Linked DNA regions of Homo sapiens. The protein of the gene in region 4 interacts with the protein of the main gene of each other region in a pairwise test. Each region holds a gene or a part of one and is shown on either strand. Other genes may lie near its edges. The genes, in order: FCHO2, ANKRD24, RTKN2, PACSIN1, PHYHIPL, SLC66A2 and DIP2A.

The links.
Region 1: the proteins of PACSIN1 (region 4) and FCHO2 interact in a two-hybrid assay, tested with the Homo sapiens proteins (one large-scale study listed by IntAct).
Region 2: the proteins of PACSIN1 (region 4) and ANKRD24 interact in a two-hybrid assay, tested with the Homo sapiens proteins (2 studies listed by BioGRID and IntAct).
Region 3: the proteins of PACSIN1 (region 4) and RTKN2 interact in a two-hybrid assay, tested with the Homo sapiens proteins (one large-scale study listed by BioGRID and IntAct).
Region 5: the proteins of PACSIN1 (region 4) and PHYHIPL interact in a two-hybrid assay, tested with the Homo sapiens proteins (one large-scale study listed by IntAct).
Region 6: the proteins of PACSIN1 (region 4) and SLC66A2 interact in a two-hybrid assay, tested with the Homo sapiens proteins (one large-scale study listed by IntAct).
Region 7: the proteins of PACSIN1 (region 4) and DIP2A interact in a two-hybrid assay, tested with the Homo sapiens proteins (one large-scale study listed by IntAct).

What each region holds. Positions count from the first base shown.
Region 1 is NC_000005.10:73,085,041-73,088,031, forward strand, and holds part of FCHO2 (F-BAR domain only protein 2), read left to right. Parts: intron 1-2,548; coding exon 2,549-2,713; intron 2,714-2,991. UniProt on the Homo sapiens protein: Functions in an early step of clathrin-mediated endocytosis. Has both a membrane binding/bending activity and the ability to recruit proteins essential to the formation of functional clathrin-coated pits.
Region 2 is NC_000019.10:4,217,189-4,220,688, reverse strand, and holds part of ANKRD24 (ankyrin repeat domain-containing protein 24), read right to left. Parts: coding exon 2,526-3,500; intron 1,099-2,525; coding exon 931-1,098; intron 1-930. UniProt on the Homo sapiens protein: Component of the stereocilia rootlet in hair cells of inner ear.
Region 3 is NC_000010.11:62,195,845-62,199,344, forward strand, and holds part of RTKN2 (rhotekin-2), read right to left. Parts: intron 2,600-3,500; coding exon 2,064-2,599; 3' UTR 1-2,063. UniProt on the Homo sapiens protein: May play an important role in lymphopoiesis.
Region 4 is NC_000006.12:34,469,076-34,472,575, forward strand, and holds part of PACSIN1 (protein kinase C and casein kinase substrate in neurons protein 1), read left to right. Parts: intron 1-3,500. UniProt on the Homo sapiens protein: Plays a role in the reorganization of the microtubule cytoskeleton via its interaction with MAPT; this decreases microtubule stability and inhibits MAPT-induced microtubule polymerization.
Region 5 is NC_000010.11:59,245,457-59,248,270, reverse strand, and holds the end of PHYHIPL (phytanoyl-CoA hydroxylase-interacting protein-like), read right to left. Parts: coding exon 2,680-2,814; 3' UTR 658-2,679; coding exon of another isoform or gene 534-657; 3' UTR 501-533; downstream 1-500. Other genes in the region: protein FAM13C, read left to right, coding at 534-657. UniProt on the Homo sapiens protein: May play a role in the development of the central system.
Region 6 is NC_000018.10:79,904,287-79,906,653, forward strand, and holds part of SLC66A2 (solute carrier family 66 member 2), read right to left. Parts: intron 1-2,367.
Region 7 is NC_000021.9:46,465,391-46,468,890, reverse strand, and holds part of DIP2A (disco-interacting protein 2 homolog A), read right to left. Parts: intron 1-3,500. UniProt on the Homo sapiens protein: Catalyzes the de novo synthesis of acetyl-CoA in vitro. Promotes acetylation of CTTN, possibly by providing the acetyl donor, ensuring correct dendritic spine morphology and synaptic transmission.

The DNA.
Region 1 (2,991 bases), on a different chromosome or scaffold from region 4:
AAATTTGTTCTCTCAAAAATAAGACACAGGCTGGGTGCAGTGGCTCATGCCTGTAATCCCAGCACTTTGGGAGGCCAAGGCAGGTAGATCGTGAGGTCAAGAGATCGAGACCATCCTGGCCAACATGGTGAAACCCTGTCTCTACTAAAAATACAAAAATTAGCTGGATGTAGTGGCACGTGCCTGTAGTGTCAGCTACTCGGGAGGCTGAGGCAGGAGAATTGTTTGAACACGGGAGGTGGAGGTTGCAGTGAGCCAACATCGCACCACTGCCCTCCAGCCTGGCGCAGAGACTCCGTCTCAAAAAATAAAAAAATGAGATACAAATTTTCTAACCAGATTTTAAGTTTCCCTCTGCTATTCAGGTATCAGGTGTTTCTGTGAGGAAATGGAAAAATCTTATAAATGTGGTTTTTGATGTGGTTAGTCAAGCCTTTGAAAAGAATATCCAAGGCCAGGCATGGTGGCTCATTCCTGCAATCCCAGCACTTTGGGAGGCTGAGGCAGGTGGATCACTTGAGGCCAGGAGTTGGAGACCAGCCTAGACAATGTGGCAAAACCCTGCCTCTACTAAAAATACAAAAATTAACCAAGTGTGGTGGCACGTGCCTGTAGTCCCAGTTACTCAGGAGGCTGAGGCACGAGTCTAGCTTGAACCTGGGAGGCAGAGGTTTCAGTGAGCCAAGATTGCACCACTGTATTCCAGCTTGGGCCTTAGAGGGAGACTCTGTCTCAAAAAATAAATAAATAAATAAATAAATAAATAAATAAATAAATAAATAAATAAGAATGCTGTAAAATAGGCTGGGCACGGTGGCTCACACCTGAAATCCCAGCACTTTGGGAGGCTGAGGCGGGTGGATCATGAGGTCAGGAATTCAAGACCAGCCTGGCCAATATGGTGAAACCCTGTCTCTACTAAAAATACAGAATTAGCCAGGCATGGTGGTGTGCGCCTGTAATCCCAGATACTCAGGAGGCTGAGGCAGGAGAATCGCTTGAACCCAGGAGGCGGAGGTTGCAGTGAGCCAAGATCGTGCCACTGCACTCCAGCCTAGGCAACAGAGTGAGAGACTCTGTCTCAAAAAAAAAAAACACAAAAAATTCTGTAAAATAGAAATCTGTTTTCTGTTGCTGACTGTGTACTCAGAAGAGGGACAGGAAATATTTCTAAGGTGATTGTCAAGGTTGTTGCTCTTGGTCTATGGTAGAACTTTTGCACAACCAAATTGGTTATCAAGAATTGTAAAAGTTTGAGGGCCTGGATAGTAATTAAGAATAAGGCAGCAGTTCATCTCCACTACTGATCTATGCCTCCAGGCATAATAATACAAGTTGGATCAATGTTGTGACATCCTATTCTCCATTTCTCTGTGTAGTGTTAAGCTTCTGTGCAGGGGATCACAGGATCTTACTGCTAGTACCTAGCATTTCTGTCCATTTGCTCTATCCAGAAACCTGGGAACCCTCCTAGACTCCTCCTTTCTCATTTCTTGATTCCAACTCCTAAATATCTTTCAAATAACTTTCTTAATATCTTTCCTTTTTATTAGCCCTAGTTCAGATCCCCCTTTCCTATCATCTAGAGTCCTAAACTGTTTTGACTTGCAGTTGGTCTCCCAACCTTGCATCTTGTGCTTCTCTTCCCTTTTGAGACACTAATCTGAAATGTTCTTGTCTTCCTTATCTTTGGTGACTTCCCATGGTTACATCATGAATTTCTTACCATGGCCTGGCCCATGCTACCACTCTAGTCTCATCTGCCACTCCCCTCTACCTGTATCCTGTTCTCCTGCTAATCTGATATAGATGCTATTTCGTTAAATGCATCATGCTCTGTCTCTGTATCTTTGGTAACTTCTGCCTAAAATACACACCATCATCCCCACCACCATTTATAATTTTCAGCTGAGATAGGTGCTTTTGTGCCTGTAGCTCCTCAGAGCTCCTTTACAGCATTTATAATATTCATTATAATTATTGGTTTACTGTTCCTGCCATTCCATTAGACTGAAGTATACTGAATAAATGGTGATGATACTAGAAACAAAACACCTCAGAAATACCTACTTGGCATTATGTTAGACCAGTAAAACTTTAAAAAGAAAAGTGAATAGAAAATAGCAATGTTATACAACTCTTCCCAACCGTAGTTACCTTTCCATCTTTACTTCTTCTACTACTCAGTAGTCATTTCTTTTTTAACTTTATGCCACCTATATCCCTCCTAGGGTTTTTCTCTGGGCTGTCCTCAGTTACTTCCTTCTTCTCTTTTGACTCGCCTCAACATGCATATAGCATAGGAGTCCAGTAGTTAACATCTCTGAAGATTAGTATTGAGTCAAAGAAAAGCATGGGTTATTTACTTAATGAAAATTGATATTCACTAAAAAATATGAGATTTGGAAACAGGATAATAGTTTGTTTACTGTGCACATCTAATGAATGTAGCACAGGACTGATGTAGTTTAGCTTACTTGCTCATTTGATTCTATTTTGTTTGAAATGTATTTTACCCTGTGTAAGTGCTTTATTCTTTTCTTTGTAGGTTCTGGGTCCCTCCGAGCAAAATTTGATCTTTCAGAAGGACCTAGTAAACCCACGACACTTGCAGTACAATTCCTCAGCGAGGGAAGTACCCTTTCAGGAGTAGATTTCGAACTTGTGGGCACTGGCTATAGGCTTTCCTTAATAAAGAAGCGGTTTGCTACTGGTAAGTTAGGAGATTTCAAACTTTTTAATGTACATGGGAAACATTTGTATTCTAACAGTTATTAAAAAACTGTCAAGCAATTTATAATCTAAAGACATGGAAATTTTTTCTTTAACCCTTGGTACAAGGTGCCAGGTAGAGACACACCTGGGAGAGAGTTCTTACGGTCAGTATAGCTGAACACCTGTTATCTGATTCTAATGTACTGTAAATAGCAGATGGGAACTAGAGTTTTGTATTGGTAACCACAGTGGAAAATGTCCTTAGAGTGCATTTGA
Region 2 (3,500 bases), on a different chromosome or scaffold from region 4:
CAGCTACTCGGGAGGCTGAGGCAGGAGAATGGCGTGAACCCGGGAGGCAGAGTTTACAGTGAGCCAAGATCACGCCACTGCACTCCAGTCTGGGTGACAGAGCAAGACTCTGCCTCAGAAAAAAACAAAACAACAATAAAAAAAGGTAATGTGTGAAAAATTCCCAATCTAACACCTGGAGGCTGTTGTTATCATCATTAGTATTGTTTAGGAACGAAACGTGGGAACGTGGGTACAAACCCAGCTGAAAGACTGCATGGCTGTGTGACCTTAGGCAAGTGACTTCACCTCTCTGTGCTTCTGTTTCCTCAAATGGGGATAATAAAAGCCCCTATCCTGTGAGAACTGGATGTGACTAAATGCATCCAGTCCACAGGGCCTGGCATGCAGTAAGCACTCAATAAATGTAACTGTGGAGACAGACGCAGTGGCTCACGCCTGTAACCCCAGCCCTTTTGGGGGCTGAGGCAGGCGGATCACTTGAGCTCAGGAGTTCGAGACCAGCCTGGCCAACGTGACGAAACCCCATCTCTACTAAAAATATAAAAAATTAGCTGGGTGTGGTGTCGCATGCCTGTAATCCCAGCTGCTCGGGAGGCTGAGGCACGAGAATTGCTTGAACCCAGAGGTTGCAGTGAGCCGAGATCATGCCACTGCACTCCAGCCTGGGCGACAGAGCGAGACTCCGTCTCAAGTAAAAAAATAAAATAAATGTAACTGTGGTTATAATTGGTACCTGGAACAGCAGCCTGTGTGTGTCTGACTTGTCAGAGGCTGTAACCAGGTCCCCTTCCGTTTCTGAGCCTCAGTTTCCCTTCTGGAAAATGGGTTGATTTTCCAAGGCCCTTGCAGTGAGGACCTTCGTAGATTGGCCCCAACCTTTGCTGAGTGGATGCCTCCCTGACTGAGTGTGGGAGAGGGGGCACCCACCTTCTTGTCCTTCTCCTTGGCCTTGTCCAGAGCCTCCTGGGCCCGGCTCTGGGCCTGGCGAGCCCTTTCCGCCTCGGTCCGTAGCCCCCGTAGCTGCTGCTCTGCTGTGGCCAGCTGTGCCTCGGCTGCGTGTCGCTCACTCTTCATGAACAGGGCCTCACGCTGCACCTGTGGCCCAAGCCCACGCATGACTCTCAGGACACTAAGACTCCAATGATGCTAGACCCCAGAATTCATATGATCCTTCTACTTTGTTCTTTTGTTTTTGGATTTTTTTTAAGACAGGGTCTTGCTCTGTTGCTCCGGACCTGCACTCCTGGCTGGAGTGCGGTGGTGCGATCATGGCTCACTGTAGCCTCAATCTTTCAGGCTTAAGTGATCCTCCCACCTCGGCCTTCCAAGTAGCTGGGACCACAGGTGCCACCATGCCTGGCTACTATTTGCTTGTTTTTGTTTTGTTTTTGTTTTTTTTTGAGACAGAGTCTTGCTCTGTCGCCTAGGCTGGAGTGCAGTGGTGTAATCTCAGCTCACTGCAACCTCCACTTCCCGGGTTCAAGCGATTCTCCTGCCTCAGCCTCCCCAGTAGCTGGGATTACAGGCACGTGCCACAATGCCAACCTAATTTTTGTATTTTTAGTAGAGACGGGGTTTCACGATGTTGTCCAGGCTGGTCTCGAACTTGTGACCTCAGGTGATCCACTCACCTTGGCCTCCCAAAGTGCTGGGATTACAGGCGTGAGCCACGGTGCCCGGCCATGAGCTCAGGTGTTTGAGACCAGCGTGGGCAACATGGCAAAACCCTGTCTTTACAAAAAATTAAAAAGTTAGACGAGCATGGTGGTGCACACCTGTGGTACCAGCTACTTGGGAGGCTGAGGTGGGAGGATTACTTGAGCCCAGGAGGTGGAGGTTGCAGTGAGCTATGATTGTGCCACTGCACTCCAGCCTGGGTGACTGGGTGACTTTTCAGACAGAGCCACACCCTGTCTGAAAAAAAAAAAAAAAGAAAGGAAGGGAAGGGGAAGGGGGGAGGGAAGGGGGATGAAGAAAGAAAGGAAAGAGAGAGGAAGGAAGGAGAAATAAAGAGAAAGAAAGAGAGAAAACACAAGTGGAAAATTCCAAGAGGTCAGGATGGCTGCAGGGTCAAATGTCTGTTCAAGGCCAGGTGCGGAGGCTGATGCCCATAATCCCAGCACTTTGAGAGGCTGAGGTGGGTGGATCACCTGAGGTCAGGAGTTCAAGACCAGCCTGGCCAACACGGTGAACTCCCATCTCTACTAAAAATACAAAAGTTAGCTGGGCGTGGGGGCAGGTGCCTGTAATTCCAGCTACTCCGGAGGCTGAGGCAGGAGAATCACTTGAACCGGGAAAGAGGAGGTTGCAGTGAGCTGAGATCACACCACTACACTCCAGCCTGGGCGACACGAGTGAAACTCCATCTCAAAAATAAATAAATAAATAAATAAATAAATAAAATAAAGTAGGTCTGTTCAAGTAAAACTGATGGGTTCAAAACACCTCAAGGCTGCGGGGCTAAAACAGGCCGCCACGTGGCCAATGGGGGTGGGGCCCGGGTGGTGACCAGCCCTGCTCACCTGGAAGACCTCTGCGCTGGTCTTCTCATGCCGCCGTCCCAGCTCCTCCAGCTGCCCCTCCAGCTGGGCCACGTTGGCCTGCAGGGTGCCCACGATGCGTTCGTGCTCCGAGAGCGCCACGCTGCACACACGCTCCCGCTCCAGCTCCGCGCGCAGCCGGGCGGCCTCCTTGCCCGTGGCCACCACCTCCTGCTCCAGACTGGCTGCCCGGCCCCGCAGCTCCAGGGCCTCCTCCTGCAGCCGGCGGTGCTCAGAGGCCGGCACCACGGACTGGCGGAGGGCCTCGGAGGCCTCCCGCAGCTCGGCCAGGCCCTGCCGCGCCTCCTCGCAGGCCGCAGGCAGCTCAGCCACTCGGGCCTCAGCGGCGTCCCGTGCCCGGCCCAGTTCCGCGGCCGCCGTGCGCTGCTGCTCCCCCGTGGCCCTGGCCGTGGCCAGCTGCTCCCGCAGAACCTCCAGCTCCCGGCTCTGCTCCAGCCGCGCCTCCTCCCGCTGGGCCAGCTCGGCCCGCAGGCCCCGCGCCTCCTCCTCCGCCAGCAGCCGGCTGGCCCGAGCCTCATCCAGGCAGGCCGAGGCCGCCTCCAGCTCCCGCAGGCGGGAGTCCCGGTCTCGGAGGTCCTCCCGGGCCTGCTCCAGGGCCGCCCGCAGCTGTGTGGTGTCACCGCCACCGCCCCCGCTGGCCCCGCTGCCCTCGGCCTCGCGGACACGCTCTCGCAGCCGGCCTGCCTCGGCCTCCGCGGCCTCGCACTTCCCCAGGGCCGCCTCCAGCTCCGCAGCTGCCTCCCGCTCCCGCTGCCGGAGAGCCTCCTCCAAGCCACGGATCCTGGTCTCCAGCTCTACTTGAAGCTTTTCCGAGGCCTCTGCGGCACCAGGATGTAGGATGGGGCCAGCAGAGATCCCCGGGACCGTGGCCTCTACCCCTGGGTTCTCCACACCTGTGGCACTGACTCCTGTGGATTCCATCCCTGTGGCCCTAGA
Region 3 (3,500 bases), on a different chromosome or scaffold from region 4:
AATGGTTCTAGGTAAAAAGGGCTTCAGTCCTGTTTCAAAGTTCTACTCTGAGGGCACAACTGCTAGGTAATTTCTGTATGAATACTTTCTTTTTCTTATACACCTTAAGTCCTTCCTGCTGTTATCTGCATGAGGAAAAATGACAAGAATATAATCTGGAAGTTTTAATACTGATTTGTAATAAAGGAAGGCATCAACTAGGAAAAAAAAAAGAATGCTTAGATGCCAGCTTCAAAACAATTTTCCCTGCAGCATCTTCTAGCTCAATAATTTAGTGGCAATGACAGTCACAAATGCTGTCAAAAACAGCAATGAAGTTTTAAAAAATAACCCAAAAATTCAAACAATAATATCCTTTAGATTTTTAATGTCATTTATTGAAATGGCAATCATAACAGAAACTTATGAGAGCCTTCTAGTTAGAAAAAATAAGTTTACTTTTTAAGGTTTCCATACATGTGATGATCTCTACATGCTATCAAGCAGGCATATAGTACTTTCTTCTCACCAAAAACTCTGTCTGTCCTGATGTTACCAGTCACAAGAAACCTTTTGTTATCATTACTCCCTCAAGATTCAATTCTTACTAGGAGTCCTGGGCAAACACAAAAGTGTCCTGGCAGTTACATCATTCTCTATAAATGGAAAAGACCCCGCTATCTGAAAATAATGAAAGGCTCCATTTAAATTAATGTGGTTTTTTGGTCAAGTGTTCATTTTGTTTTGTAATAATGTAGTTCTGATCCAAATAGAGTTCTTGCTAGCTTTAAAAAGATCTCAAGAGATTATACACAGGGCAGCAATTTAATTCTTAAATTTTTATTTCTTGCAATGACATTTAGGGTTCAGTGTGATTTGAGATTTTTAGTGCTGTTGCTGACACCTTATGGAAACTGTTTTATTTGGAAATTCTAATTAGATTTTTAAAACTGTTCTGCTCTTGTTTACAAAAAGCATTATTATAAAAAATGGATTTTTTGTTCCTTTAAGGTATTTTTCTGCTATTTATTCCTCACTTGACTTTATAATCCTGTTTGGGTCACTATGATTAGTTGCTATGGAAATTACCTCCTATGGAAATGATTCCAATGTCACTGTTGTAAGAATATGACATTTAATGAAAAATACCACTAGCAGACATCAACTCTTACTAGGAAAAGGAAATCTAATTAAAATTTTAAAAAAGAATTCTGAAAATTATTTACCATGGCCAACTTTTCTGATATTTTTGAATCTCTCATCTTCTTTTTAAATAAGTATTAAATGAATTTTAAGGTGTTGATCAGCTACTCACTTCCCTAAATTCCAAAGTCACAATGGAAATTAGCACCACACACAGAAAATTGAATGTAAAGAGCATTTCATCTACCATTTCTCTAAACTAGTAAGTGTTATGCTTCATTTATGAAAGTTAATGTCAACAGTATTTCAGGGCTCATCAAGGAAACAAGTTTGAATAGCACATTACAAATTCCCTTTAAAGATGAAGAATTTAATATTCTAAAATTTATCCCAGGAATTTAAAAGGTCAGGCCTATAAACTAGTGAGTTAAACAATAGATGAGAGCCAGTGAACCATTAGATGAGAATTCCAGAATGCTAAGAAAATTTTCTTGGGTGGATTCTATAATTTGTGGTTTGAATAAAACCTTTGAAACATTCCATTAGTATTAAAATTCTCACAATGAGAATATGGTTCATATTTAACACATTTTAAATTACTAGACAGTCTCTCCCCAAAAGAAATTTTAATGCTTTATTCTGCCTAGGGCTTATTCACTGCCTGGTACTAATTCAGGAATAAATTAACCCTTCCAACAATTAGGATATTGTCTAGAAACTGCCTCTTGCACACTGCTGGAGAAATCACTTACATTCTGCAAATCAGGAGTAAAAGAGAAATCCACTTCTTCATTATAAAATGTTTTTCTATACCTAATAGCTTATTAATTATTGGTATAAATCACTATATTTACCTATATAATTACACATTATTCTATAATGCCTCTGAATTAAGCTTCACAGTTATAGATTTTGTTAAATGTTTTATCATTAAGAGTTTTCTATACTTGTGCCTGCAGCCATGATCTAGGGTCCAGAATGTCTTTGATGGATTTCTGCCTTGGAGCTGGCACTGGCTTGGCTTCAAAATTGGTTTTAGTGTCTGTGTGCTCACCATCACTTAATCTATTTCTCCTGGCAGGCAGAAGTTTTCGAGGAGCAGCCATTGGTTTCTGTAAGTGATGCATTAGAGTTGATAGTTTGGTATCCAAAGACGATGTCTGAGATACACTTGTTTTTCCCCAGTTGTCCTTAACCAATTGATCTGTGTTACTCTGTGATTTTAAGCTGAATGGAAGTTTATCAGAAGGAGGAAGGGGAGCTTGTCTCTTTTTCCCTTTTTCATCATGTAATGGCTCACTTGCAGGATACAGTACCTTTTTCTGGATGACCATTTGATGGTTACCATCAAAGAGTGTGGCCCAAGGAGGTGGTAAGGATTCTTCATGCTGACCAATAAGGAACTGCCCATTTGTCTCTTCAATTTTTTTTTGTATTATATCCGTTAAACTTTCAAGTTTCATAGGTGAATCAATGCCTATAATAATTTTAAGAAAAAAAAACATGAAAAAATTCAAAAGCAGTATGTACTTTATCTAAATAAGTTCTTTTCCAAACTAGTATGCTATATACAATGGTCATCAAAGACTATGATAAGGAAAACGTTCACTTGTAAAAATAACCACACCATCAGAACTAAAAAGATCATGCGCTGCACTAATCATACATTATATATGTAAACATACACATAATACATAGTATATAAAACATATATAACATACATATAATTTACATAATACATACACATGTATAAATATATTCCTATATAAATTAGCAAAATCCATCTTTCAAAGAAGTGGAGTTATATGAGTTTTCTAAAAAATTCTATAGATTAAGTATTTATGAGATAACATTTCCTGGATTTAAAACCTTATTCTGACTGCTAGGTAAGAGATTTCCTTTTTTACAAAAGCTAGATATATATTAGGATGACTGCATTTGGATGAGTATTCTTTCCTGTAGACCAGCAAAGTCTCTGTTAAAAGGGAAAATGCTTAAAACCAAAAACCCAGGAAAACAGAGTAAAGCCCTCATACCACTTTGGTAATAAGGGTGGTGGGTGAAACTTTCCTTGGCAAAAATAAAAGAACAGAGATAAATCTCTATTAAATAAATTACTGGTATTTTAAAATGTGTGAACCCAAATGTATCATTTTTAACCTGACATTTTAAAGTGAATGTAAGTACAGGTACATTAGTGGCAAATTAAACAGAATTTAGACTGACTTGCACTTGTTCACAACATTATTTACTGAGGCAACAGCACAAAAATAAACACCCTTCAAGGTGTGGGAAATTGAATATTAGTGGGTCTAGAAATTTAAAATTTTCCAAAGTATTAAACTTAACCAATTTCTTTTTTCTGGCTAGAGATGAAA
Region 4 (3,500 bases):
GAAGGACAGAAGGGACAGGAGAGGACATGAGGGGTGGGGGCATTCACTGATTTGGGGGGCCCTCCCTGGGGAACCAGGTGGAGGGGTTGGGGGACGAGTGGGTATACCAGATAAGAAGGATGCTGCTTGGTTTGGTTTTACATTTTTCTTAAAGAAAAATAGCTTTTATTATTTTTTCTTATTACCAAAGTAATATAGGTTTGCTGTGGGCAATTTAGAATGTACTAGAAAGCCGAATGAAGGAAGCCCATTAGCCACATCAGACCCACCCACCATGGGCACTTCGTAACTGATTTCCAGCCAGGGGCAGGATGGACCGGAGGGGAGGTCTGGGCTGGGGACTTGGCGGGCAGGTCAGGGTCCCAGGAAGTAGCCGTGAGGATTGGCAGGCAGGTAGAGGAGGGGTCCCGGAGCTTCACTGTGGAAAGCAGGGAAGGAAGTGGGATTGGATGAAGGGGAAGTGGACTCTGATGCAGCCCAACAGGCAACAGGGTGCCCTGGGGCTAGAGTGGCCTTTCAGGTCATGTCCATTTGCCTGTGAGAGTCAGGCCCTAGACCCCAGCATCCTGCGCCCATCAGGCACAGGGTTTGGGTGTGCCTTCCTGCAGGTGGCTCTGTGGTAGCAGCAGTCCCTGAAGCATCTGCCCACTGAGGTCGCCTGCTGACAGCACCCACCCCCTGGGGCAACAGGTAGTGTTCACCACCAGGAAAGATGGGTTGGGAGGAACCCAGAGGTGGGCTGAAGGGACAAGATCAACCGGAGCCTGGCCTCAGCTGGCTCTGGGGAGACAGGACCTCTAATGCCAGGGAAGTTGCTGGTGCCGTTTCCAGAAAAGGAGCGTGTCTGTGGGGAGCAATTTAGAATGTACTGGAAAGCCAAATGAAGAAAACCTATTAGCCACTTCAGACCCACCTGCTGGGGACACTTTGTGGCTGGTTTCCAGCCAGGGGCAGGGTGGCCTGGAGGGGAGGGCTGGGCTGGAGACTGGGGTCGGGGGCTCCCCTCCACCCTCCCCTGGGTGCTGTCTCTGAAGACCTCAACCTTGGGTGTGAGGGGCTGCAGGATACCTGAAAACTGGGAGGGCAGGGGAGGCCTTGGCTATTATTATTATTATTATTATTTTTGAGACGGAGTCTCACTCTGTTACCCAGGCTGGAGTGCAGTGGCGCGATCTTGGCTCATTGCAACCTCCACCTCCGGGTTCAAGCAATTCTCTGCCTCAGCCTCCTGAGTAGCTGGGATTACAGGCGCCCACCACCACGCCCGGCTAATTTTTGTATTTTTAGTAAAGACAGGGTTTCACTATCTTGGCCAGGCTGGTCTTGAACTCCTGACCTCGTGATCCACCCGCCTCGGCCTCCCAAAGTGCTGGGATTACAGGTGTGAGCCACCGCACCTGGCCTACCTTGGCTATTATTTTAAAATCACTCGATATTGTTATAATTATTTTCTTTTTAGAGGCAGGGTCTTGCTCTGTCACCCAGGCTGGAGTGAGTGACACCATCATAGCTCACTGCAGCCTCGACCTCCCGGGCCCAAGGGATCCTCCCATTCAGCCTCCTGAGTAGCTGAGTGCTACCATGCCTGGCTAATTTTTCAATTTTATTGTAGAGATGGGGTCTTACTGTGTTGCCCAGGCTAAAAATAACTTGATATTAAAATGCTGGGTAGGGGCTAGGGTAGTCTTTCTATATAAAATGCAGCATACTCAGGTAATTTTAAATTTCAGAAAAACAACAAATGTGTTTTTGTTGTTTTTTAGTCTAAGTATGTCCCAAACATTGCATAGGACATATTTTTAATAAAAAACTGTATTTGTCATTTATCTGAAATTCAGATTTAACTAGGTGTCCTGAATTTTTATTTTATTTTATTTATTTATTTTTGAGATGGAGTTTTGCTCTTGTCGCCCAGGCTTGAGTGCAAGGCTGCGATCTAGGCTCACTGCAACCTCCGCCTCCCAGGTTCAAGTGATTCTCCTGCCTCAGCCTCCTGAGTAGCTGAGATTACAGGTGCCGGCCACCACACCCAGCTAATTTTTCTGTATTTTTAGTAGAGATGGGGTTTCGCCATGTTGGCCAGGCTGGTCTCAAACTCCTGACCTCAAGTGATCTGCCCGCCTCAGCCTCCCAAAGTGCTGGGATTACAGGCATGAGCCACCGCGCCTGGCCCTGAATTTTTATTGACTAAATGTGGCCACTGTAGGCTGGGGTAGGGAGGAGTGGAGAGAGAGGGTGAGAATTTTCTGTTCTTGAGTGTGGGGGAAGAATCAATAGATACTTGTTTGAAGTTGACAGTTTTAAAACATTAACACATCCATTTTTAGAAACAGGTGAGATGTTCCAAATTTCCCATCTGTTAACTTTCTATACTGGCTAGAGAGTAGTCCCTTATTTGTGGATTTTGGCTCCTTAGTGCTGCTGAGAAATAATAAAACAATAGTTTTCTCATTTATGCAGGTGGGACAAAGGGAGATGTGGTGATCAAGGGTGGAATCACTAAATAGGGGTAATCCATTTGAGAAATAAAAGTCCTCCTAAGAAAGCTCTCATTTGGCGGAGGGCGTGGGAAACTAGAACTCTCACGTCAGTCGGGGAGCATACGTTAGCACTGTGTTTTTGGCAACAGTGGTCACAGTTTTGACTTGGCAATTCCACTTTTTGGGACTTATTCCACAGGTACACTCTGAGCAGGGTGCAAAGATTAGCTGGGCAGAGACAGTCAGTGTAGCAAAGCTAGATGTCTGTCAGGAGGACCAGTGACAAAGTCAAGACCTCTTTGTACGCTGTGATTTCGGGCAGTTGTTCGTTCTGGGATTTAATCAATGGATCTCTGAATGTCGCTGCCTGCCAGGCACCACTTTAGGTGCTTGGGGACACTGAGACAAGATGGGGCGGAGCTTATTACCAGTGTGGAAAGATGGTCATCACGTACTGATAAGTTAAAGCAAGTGGCTTTGTAGAACAATGTGTGTAGTCAAGGTCAGGAGTTCGAGACCAACCTGGCCAATATGGTGAAACCCCTGTCTCTACTAAAAATACAAAAATTACCTGGGTGTGGTGAAGGACGCCTGTAGTCCCAGCTACTCAGGAGGCTGAGGCAGGAGAATCGCTTGAGCCCAGGAGGCGGAGGTTGAAGTGAGCCGAGATCGGGCCACTGCACTCCAGCCTGGGAGACAGAGCCAGACTCTGTCTCAAAAAAAAAAAAAAAAAAAAAAAGAACAATGTGTGTAGTATGATACAATTTTTAAAGTACATGTACATATGTTCTTCTCTGTTCATATTTACATAACAATGTGTAGAAGGCTGCATACCTGATTGTGATTAGAGCTTGCCTCTGGGCTGAGGCCTATCGCAGGGATCTGGAGGGAGAATGCGTCCTCTTTATTTCAGCCATTCTGTGCTGTTTGCATTTTATAAACAAATATCATTACTCATGAAGAAAACAATTAAAACTGCACTTGATGATACTGGGAATTTTTTTCTTAGAAACCTAAAAA
Region 5 (2,814 bases), on a different chromosome or scaffold from region 4:
GAGATAGGTATTATAATTACAAGAAAATCTGGAAACGTTTCAAGTTTGTAAGACAGACCCTAAATGCTTTTCTTGTTACCATAGGTTTATGTTATTTTTATAATGAAATTCCTGTAGTATTTTCAGGTTAATATTTTTAACAACTGTATTAGGGCTGATCATTTTGTACAGCTGTAGGGGTGTGGCAAATAATGGAAGAATGACTGGACAAAGAATGCCTTGAAAGTTCTGTTTCTTGTTTGTTTGCTTCTCCTTAGATCTTTTCACTGACCCCTTTGTTGTAAGTCTAAGCACTAGACCACATATTTGCAAAACACTTATGACATTCAAGTTTTCAAAGGTTACTATTATTTAGAAACTTAGTAACACATGGAAGAAGGAGTGAATGAAGGTGAAAGGGAAGGAAAAGAAGACATGATGCAAAAACCAAGTGGAGGCCGTTACAGTATACTTTCTCATGTATGAATTATAAAAGAATGTTTAAATAATGACTTGATTCATTGTGAACTAACAAATGTATTTTTGTTTTGCAGAAGTCCACAAAAGGAAGATAGGATACCAATGGCAGATGAGTATTATGAATATAAGCACATAAAAGCCAAACTGAGACTATTAGAGGTCCTCATCAGCAAGCAAGATGTGGCCAAAACTATTTGAGGTTCAGGAAATGTTATGATCACTTTCACCCATGATATAAAGTAAAGTTTATTTTCCTCTGCCATCCTTGCTAAGTAGTTTTGACACAATGAAAATGGAAGCACTTTAGTGGTAGTATTAGCTGTTTTTAAGAAGGAATAGCAAGTTTAATTATATACAAGGAGAAGGGATTTAAACGGGGGGAAGAATACAACAGGTAGCCATATAATTGGGAAAAAATTCAGTGTCCTCCATGCCAAGCAGAAAACTCATAGTCAATACAAGTATTTTTAAAAATGTCTAATATTTTATCAAATCTAAATAACATAGCTAGGACACTTGTTAGGGAAAGTTTATTTAGTATCCAAAGACTGTTTATGTTGATGTATGGAAAAGAGCATGATTTTAAAAAATCAATCATAGGAGGAAAAGAAATTCGCTTTTCAAGTAGGAAGGAATACAGCTAGCAAGAAAGCAATTTATTTGAAACTTCTAATGGATTTTTGAGTGATAAAACATTTACTACCTTGTCCTTTAAGTCTGCTAGGCTCTCAGTACCCTAAAATAAACTAGATTGTGTTGCTATTTTTTTCTTTCTCTATAAAAATAACACATTATTTTATCCGTTATTTGAAATTTTACATTTCTGGTTACCAAAGTTCATTCTGATAGCATGTACTTTGTGAATTATTATCTTTGTCTATAACTGACAGATGTTTATATTAAAATAAAATATTGTATTAAAAATTTAAAATAGGTATTTTGGATAGATATGTGTCTGTAGTATATAATCTAATGTGTCCATAGTATTATTGCTAATCTTTTGGTTTACTATAAGATGATATAACTATTTTTTCATTGGGAATATACATTTTTCTTAATGTTCCAACATCTATACTTTGTAAAGTCAAAACATTTCCCATGAGCTGTAGTTATTCATCCTTCTGTACAAAATGAAAAGTTTGGAAATTGTTTGCCCTGATACCTTGAAAAAGAAGCCAGAATATTTATTTGCTTCATCAACTTCAGTGTATATCATTTTGTGTTATTTTATACGAAAACATGTTTATTATTTTCATTTTTGTAAAAGGAAGTAAAAGGTCAACATTTTCTCTCATGTACCAACCTTGTTTGTATTTCTATTTTCTGTAATGTTTAAGTATGATGTTGAAGAAATTCACATTCTCTTATAGTTTGGATGGGAAGACTATTGACTATTTCAGAAACAGACTTATTTCAGAGGCTTATTGTTTTCTCTGTATTTACCTAATATTTTATAACTTTTATGAATCAGAATAATGTCCTTCATAAATTTGTTTAATTGAAGTCATCTACTTCTAACAGGACAGATACACAACTATTTGAGGTTTACAAATTACATCTTTGATAAGGGAAATGGTTTCGTGACATGTACACAGTTGCTATTAAAATGTAACTCTATATATTCTATATGATTGTAAATATTTTATACAACAATACAAATAAAATATTTTTCTATTATATTTATTATGTTGAAACACAGTAGTTGTTTCCTGTTAGCTAATATAAATAACATAAATAACACTGTCAAACAAGAAGTTGGAAGTGCTGACAATTCTAGGCTTCAAGATTTAACTCATGCTGCAATTACACCCTTTCATGCGGTTTGGAGTTATCCCAATATTTGTTCAGTAGATTAAAATGAATGCATATTTAAACACCATTTATAAGCCATTATTGTGTACTTTGCTAAAGCAGTCTATATAACTGTTTTGTTATGTTTGGCATAAAGGAAACATAAAAACATTGCAGCATCTAGGCAATAAAGTGTCAAAAGGAGAACTTAACTTAGGGTATTTCATCATTGAAAGTAGTGGGAGGGGTAGGGAATAGGAAAACACTAAAATGGTTCTGAATGAAATTTGGAAAGTGGTAGTTGTTTGTTTTGGTGACAGTGGCATGTGCATGCTTCAGTGGAAAACATCTGGTGATAAAAATGGACAACAGAGGACCAATGCTCCTAAGGGAGGAAAAGGGGCTGAGTAAGAATAAGAAAAGTGGGCATTAACGTCCAACACTGATATTACAGGTTTTGCAGCTGGGATCTTTCTTTGCATTTGCAGTAGACAAACTCATGAGCTGATGACCAGTGATTTCTGCCACGGTGCCCACAGAAAGATCCACAGGGTCAGTGTAAAT
Region 6 (2,367 bases), on a different chromosome or scaffold from region 4:
GGGCACCCAGGGGGCTAAGGGGACCCCCAGGCAGTCGGCGGGGAGGCCTGGGGCTCAGGGGGCACCCAGGGGGTTGAGGGGACACCCAGTCTACAGGGTGACCCAGGGGTCAGGGACACCCCAGGGGGCCAAAGGACACACCCTGACCCCACCTGTCCCATGCAACCCCCACCCTTGACTTCTCTGTGGCCGCAAGAGCTGCCGCCTGGCTGGGGCTCTGCAAGCCCAAGAACAGTGAGACCAGCTCGAGGCTACAGGGGACAGCAGGGCGAGCAGCTGACGTCAGGGCCCCTGGTGCGCGGTGGCAATTCTGGGAGGGGCCGGGCCTGGGAGGGTGCTGAGGACGCAGATCTGTGCCCCCAGGCACACAGCCAAGTGGAGCAGAGCAGCTGCTTTTGGGTCTCTGCCGGCCTCCCTCCCTGGTGATAGATGCAAACCTTCCTTTCCTGGAGTGAACAGGGAGCAGCCGCCACCCACCATCCCAGTCCGAACACGCTTCCCCCACCGCTGTGTTCATGCCCTGGCTTGCCTAGCAGTGAACATGAGTGCTGCTGCACTTTCCCGTGTGAAATGTTTAAATCAGCGGCCGCTGACCCTTCCACAGCTCCTGAAGCCAGAGGCAGAGCCTGGGTGGGGAGCGCTGCCTGGACAGAAAGGACAGGACACAGCCCTCCCCCACCCTGGGGCGTCCGTCCCGCTCATAAGCCAGGGTGGGCACCTGGGTGCCGTAGCCGCCCTGTGTGAGAGTCTTCAGGCACAGCCATGGCCGGGTGTGTTCAGGGCTGGAGCTAGGAACCCGCAGGAGACAGCCGGCATCTGCACCCCCTCCTCTCTCCCAAGCCCACAGTGCTCGGCTCTAGAGCATCTTGTTGGCCTCTGAGAACATAAATCCGGCTTTATCATTACACCCACTGGGAAAAACCAGGAGGCTTTGGGACTGTTTCCACTTGGGTCGGTTTAGCTAAATTATAAGGCCCTGACCCACAGAGGGCATTTTCCTCCCATTTTTTATTCTCTGGGATGTGTCCTCCCCTGGATGCAGCTCCAGCTCCACAAAATCCAGTCTCTTCCACAGACAAAAAGACAGGGTGGTGCCTGGGTAGCACCGGGGGAAGGTGGTGCAGGCCCCTCGGCCTCTCACACACCCCAGCAGTCAGCCCAGGCTTCGGAATTCCCCCCTGCCTGCTTTAGGCCCAGGCAGGGCTGCACAGCTGACTTGGGGTGGGGCTCCGGGCCTGGGACCACAGCCCCGGTGCAAAGGCGCCTGCCTTTCCTGCGCTAGCCATGCACACAGCAGGCGCCCGAGCATTGCGCGGTGACCCCGCCACCGGTCACCTTCGCCCCACGCAGCTTCCGGTTGACCCCTCACACCAGGATGGGAAACAGAGCTCGCCTGACCCTCACACACGGCTGAGATTTCCCAGGATGTGCTTGCGAACAAGACTCAAGGCCTGAGAGCCACCACCACGCCTGCTTCAGGGACAGGCTACTTCCCACACAAAGCCCGTGGCTTTACTTGGCATGCAGCATCAGCTCACACTTGAGTTTCAACACTTTGTTTCTAATCAGTTGGTAACTCTGTAAACACACACACACCCACACACAGACACAATTTCTGGCTTCTCTGGAAAAAGAGCCTTTTCAGACTTTAGATTATGCATCTACAACTTCCTTCATAGATACGGGTTATCTACTTAAGAGATACTCAAGCTATTTCTTCTTGGGTTAAAGGAATTGGTCCATTTTATCCAAATTTTCAAATGTATGGGCATGAGGTTGTTCATTGTACTCTTTTGATGCCTGTGGGGTCTACAGAATATCCTCTTCCATACCAAATACTGGGGATCTGTGCTTTCTTGTCATTCTGGCCACTGGTTTATCAGTTAATGATTTGTTCCAAAGAACCAGCTTTCAGTTTGGTTTTTTATGTTTGCTGCAGTTTTGTTTTCATTTTTGTTGCTTGGTGTTAGCTCCGTTATTTCCTTCCTTCTGCTGGCTTGGGGTTCCTTTGCATTTCATTTTATAGTTTCTTAAGCTTAGATTGATGATTTGAGAACTTTTTTCTAAAATCAGTATTTAATACTACACATTTAACTCTAAGCATTGCTTTAGTTGCATCCCACAAATTTTGATATGGTGGTGTATTTTTCAGTTCAAAATATTTTCAATAGTTTGCTTTGCAATATCCTCTTTAACAGATTGTTTAAAGGTGTGTTGTTTAGCTTCTAAACCTTTGGAGACTTAAGATCTATTTCTGCTATTAATTTCTAGCTTAATTATATTATATTCATAGAAAATACTTTGCACAATTTCAGTTCTTTTTTAAAAAAATTCTCATGACCCAGGATATGGTCTGTTTGGTGAATG
Region 7 (3,500 bases), on a different chromosome or scaffold from region 4:
GATATTAAAATTGAAATCACTGATATTTCTTTTTTTAAATCGACATGATTAACCTATAAGAACTCGTGCATATTTAATATATAAATTTTGATGAATTTAAAGGTAAGTATATCCCTGTGAAACCATCACCATAAACATAAACATAAACATCATCTCTAAAAGTTTCTTCCTTTCCTGTTTGTGATAAGAACATTTAACATGAGCTCTACTCTCTTAACAAATTTTTAAATATACAATACAGTATTGTTAACTATATGCACTATGCTGTACAGCAGCTCTCTAGCAGTTACTCATCCTGTATAACTGAAACTATATACCCTTTGATCAACACCTTCCAGATTCTCCCACCACCCCAGTCTCTGGCAACCACCATTCTACTCTCTGCTTCTATGAGTCTGACTATTTTAAATTTCTGACACAAGTGGGCTTGTGTAGGATTTGTTCTGGCGCCGATTTTCTCTCTTTTTTTTTTTTTTTTAGACAGGGTATCATGGAGTGCAGTGGTGCAATTTCAGGTCACTGCAGCCTCCACCTCCCAGGTTCAAGCGGTTCTCCCTGCCTCAGCCATCAGAGTAGCTGGGATTATAGGCGTGCACCACCACACCCAGCTTTTTTTTTTTTTTTTTTTTGAGACAGTCTCACTGTCACCCAGGCTGGAGTGCAGTGGCACAATCTCAGCTCACTGCAGCCTCCGGCTCCTGGGTTCAAGAGATTCTCCTGCCTCAGTCTCCCGAGTAGCTGGGATTATAGGTACTTGCCCCCATGCCAGGCTAATTTTTTTTTTTATTTAGTAGAGGCGGAGTTTCACCATGTTGCCCAGGCTGGTCTCAAACTCCTGGCCTCAAGTGATCCGTCTACCTCGGCCTCCCAAACTGCTGGGATTACAGGCATGAGCCACTGCACCCAGCCCTAATTTTCATATTTTTTAGCAGAGATGGGGTTTCACCATGTCACTCAGGCTGATCCCAAACTCCTGAGTTCAAACGATCCAACCTCCTCAGCCATCCTCTTCGACCTCCCAAAGTGCTGGGATTATAGGTGTGAGCCACTGGGCCCAGCTGGCATTGATATTTTTAAAGAAACTTAGAAATCAAAATTTTGTACAAAGACACTTGTACTGGGATAATTTACTATGAAAAAAAAAACAAACAAAACCTAAAGAGGGTATTCCCGAAACATGAATAATAAATTTTGTTAGTGCAACAGACAAGCAACTAGTCAGTAAGTGTAACTTTTAAAGATTTTCAAACATGTTTTATAAATTTAAATGCCTGATTGTCCTTACATACACAAACTGAAATAATTATTAAACTAGGCAATAGCTTTAAAATGTTACAAAAAATATAAAGAAATAGATGATGACATCCATGTCTTTCAGCTACTATGTTCTAGTTATTCAAGAGACTGAGGCAAGAAGATCATTTGAACCCAGGAGTTAAAGGCAGCAGTGAGCTATCCTCACACCACTGCACTCCCAACTGGGCAACAGAGCGAGACACTATCTTAAAAAACAAACAAACAAACAAACAAACAAAACTAATACTGTGAAATTTTTTAAATATTTAACTCATTTAAATTTTTTTTTTTTTTTTTTTGAGACGGAGTCTCGCTCTGTAGCCCAGGCTGGAGTGCAGCGGTGCGATATCGGCTCACTGCAACCTCCGCCTCCCAGGTTCACGCCATTCTCCTGCCTCAGCCTCCCGAGCAGCTGGGACTACAGGCACCCACCACCACGCCCGGCTGATTTTTTGTATTTTTAGTAGAGACAGGATTTCGCTGTGTTAGCCAGGATGGTCTCGACCTCCTGACCTCGTGATCCGCCCGCCTCGACTTCCCAAAGTGCTGGGATTACAGGCGTGAGCCACCGCGCCCGGCCTAACTCATTTAAAATTTTTAATAATAAACTGACTAGATATTAAGGTAAATAATATTTTTTACTAAAAATAAAAGATTTCTGAAAACAAAAACATTTAGTAAGAAGAGGTATTCTTTTACATTTTTGCAAGTTGCTTTAACTCTGGCTTCAGAGAAGACAATATGGATTCTCATACCTGCTCCTGTATCCAATCTGTTGTACTGTGTGGTTTTTTTGGTTGAAGTCTATGAATCAAATCCTTTTTCAGAGAGACATGCAGTTGGAAAAAGGTGGGGTGTCTCAGCAGCCTTTTCAGATCACTGTGGACATTCTTCCTTGATACAACACCAAAACCAGGCAAGGGGGAGTCTCTTAAAAAAAAAAAGTTGTGGCCGGGAGTGGTGGCTCAGGCCTGTAATCCCAGCACTTTAGGAGATCAATGCGGGCGGATCACGAGGTCAGGAGTTCGAGACCAGCCTGACCAACACGTGAAACCCAATCTCTACTAAAAATACAAAAATTAGCCAGGCATGGTGGCAGGCACCTGTAATCCCAGCTACTCAGGAGGCTGAGGTAGGAGAATCACTTCAACCTGGGAGGCAGAGGTTGCAGTGAGCTGAGATCGCGCCACTGCACTCCAGCCTGGGAGACAGAGCAAGACTCCATCTCAAAAAAAAAAAAAAAAAAAAAAAAGTTATAATGTAGAATCTATAACTCTTATCAGTGAACTTTTCATATCACTACATTAAAATCCATTGGTCTATCTTTTGAATGAATCTTTTACCCATGCACTATGACTTTGTAACGTGGTGCAATGGTGAGCTGGAAAATATTAGTTCACAAAATTATGTGGATCTTCCAAATGCTGACACATTTAATTATATAATATCAAATACTCATTCATTATATTGTCACCAATCTCATCAAAGAAGTCGTTAACTATTGAGAAACTGTCAAGCTCACTGTAGCAGATAAATTTTTTCAAAATTTTGATTTTTGCTTGAAAGCACAAATATTATCATTGGTCATAAATTGTCAGTTATTTCCTCTCATTTATTTTCCAGAAAACGTCCACCAAATACCCAAGTCTCAATAACTGCAGATTGTCTGCTACCCACTTTTTCAAGCAAAAATGGCATTTCACAATAAAAGCAGCTAGTTCGCTTTGCAACTCAAACTACACAATTGCTGTTTCTCAAAACAGGCACTGTACCTCTTTGTGCAGCAAAAGCAATTCATGTACTTCCCATTTCCTCATGAAAAGACAAAAGGCCAATTTTTTTTTTTAATTTTTACTGCTTCATCAGGGTCTGTTTAAGTGAAAGCAGCCCTTTTTGTTTTTTTAAAACTGCAAGTGGAGAGGTAGCGAATAATATAATGACTATCAGTGACACTTGGAGTCCCTGCCTCAATTTACGTTAAAGTGCCCAGCAGTTTTCCCTATTACTGCTTTTGGACCATCAGTACAAGTGTCAACACAGTGAAAACAGAAATGGCATCTTAGTATCATTATAAAAATAGTCTCCCTCTGCCTCCTGGGTTTGAGCGATTCTCCTGCCTCAGCCTCCCACGTAGCTGGGATTACAGGCACGTGCCACCATGACCAGCTAATTTTTTTTTTGTTATATTTAGTAGCAACGGGGTT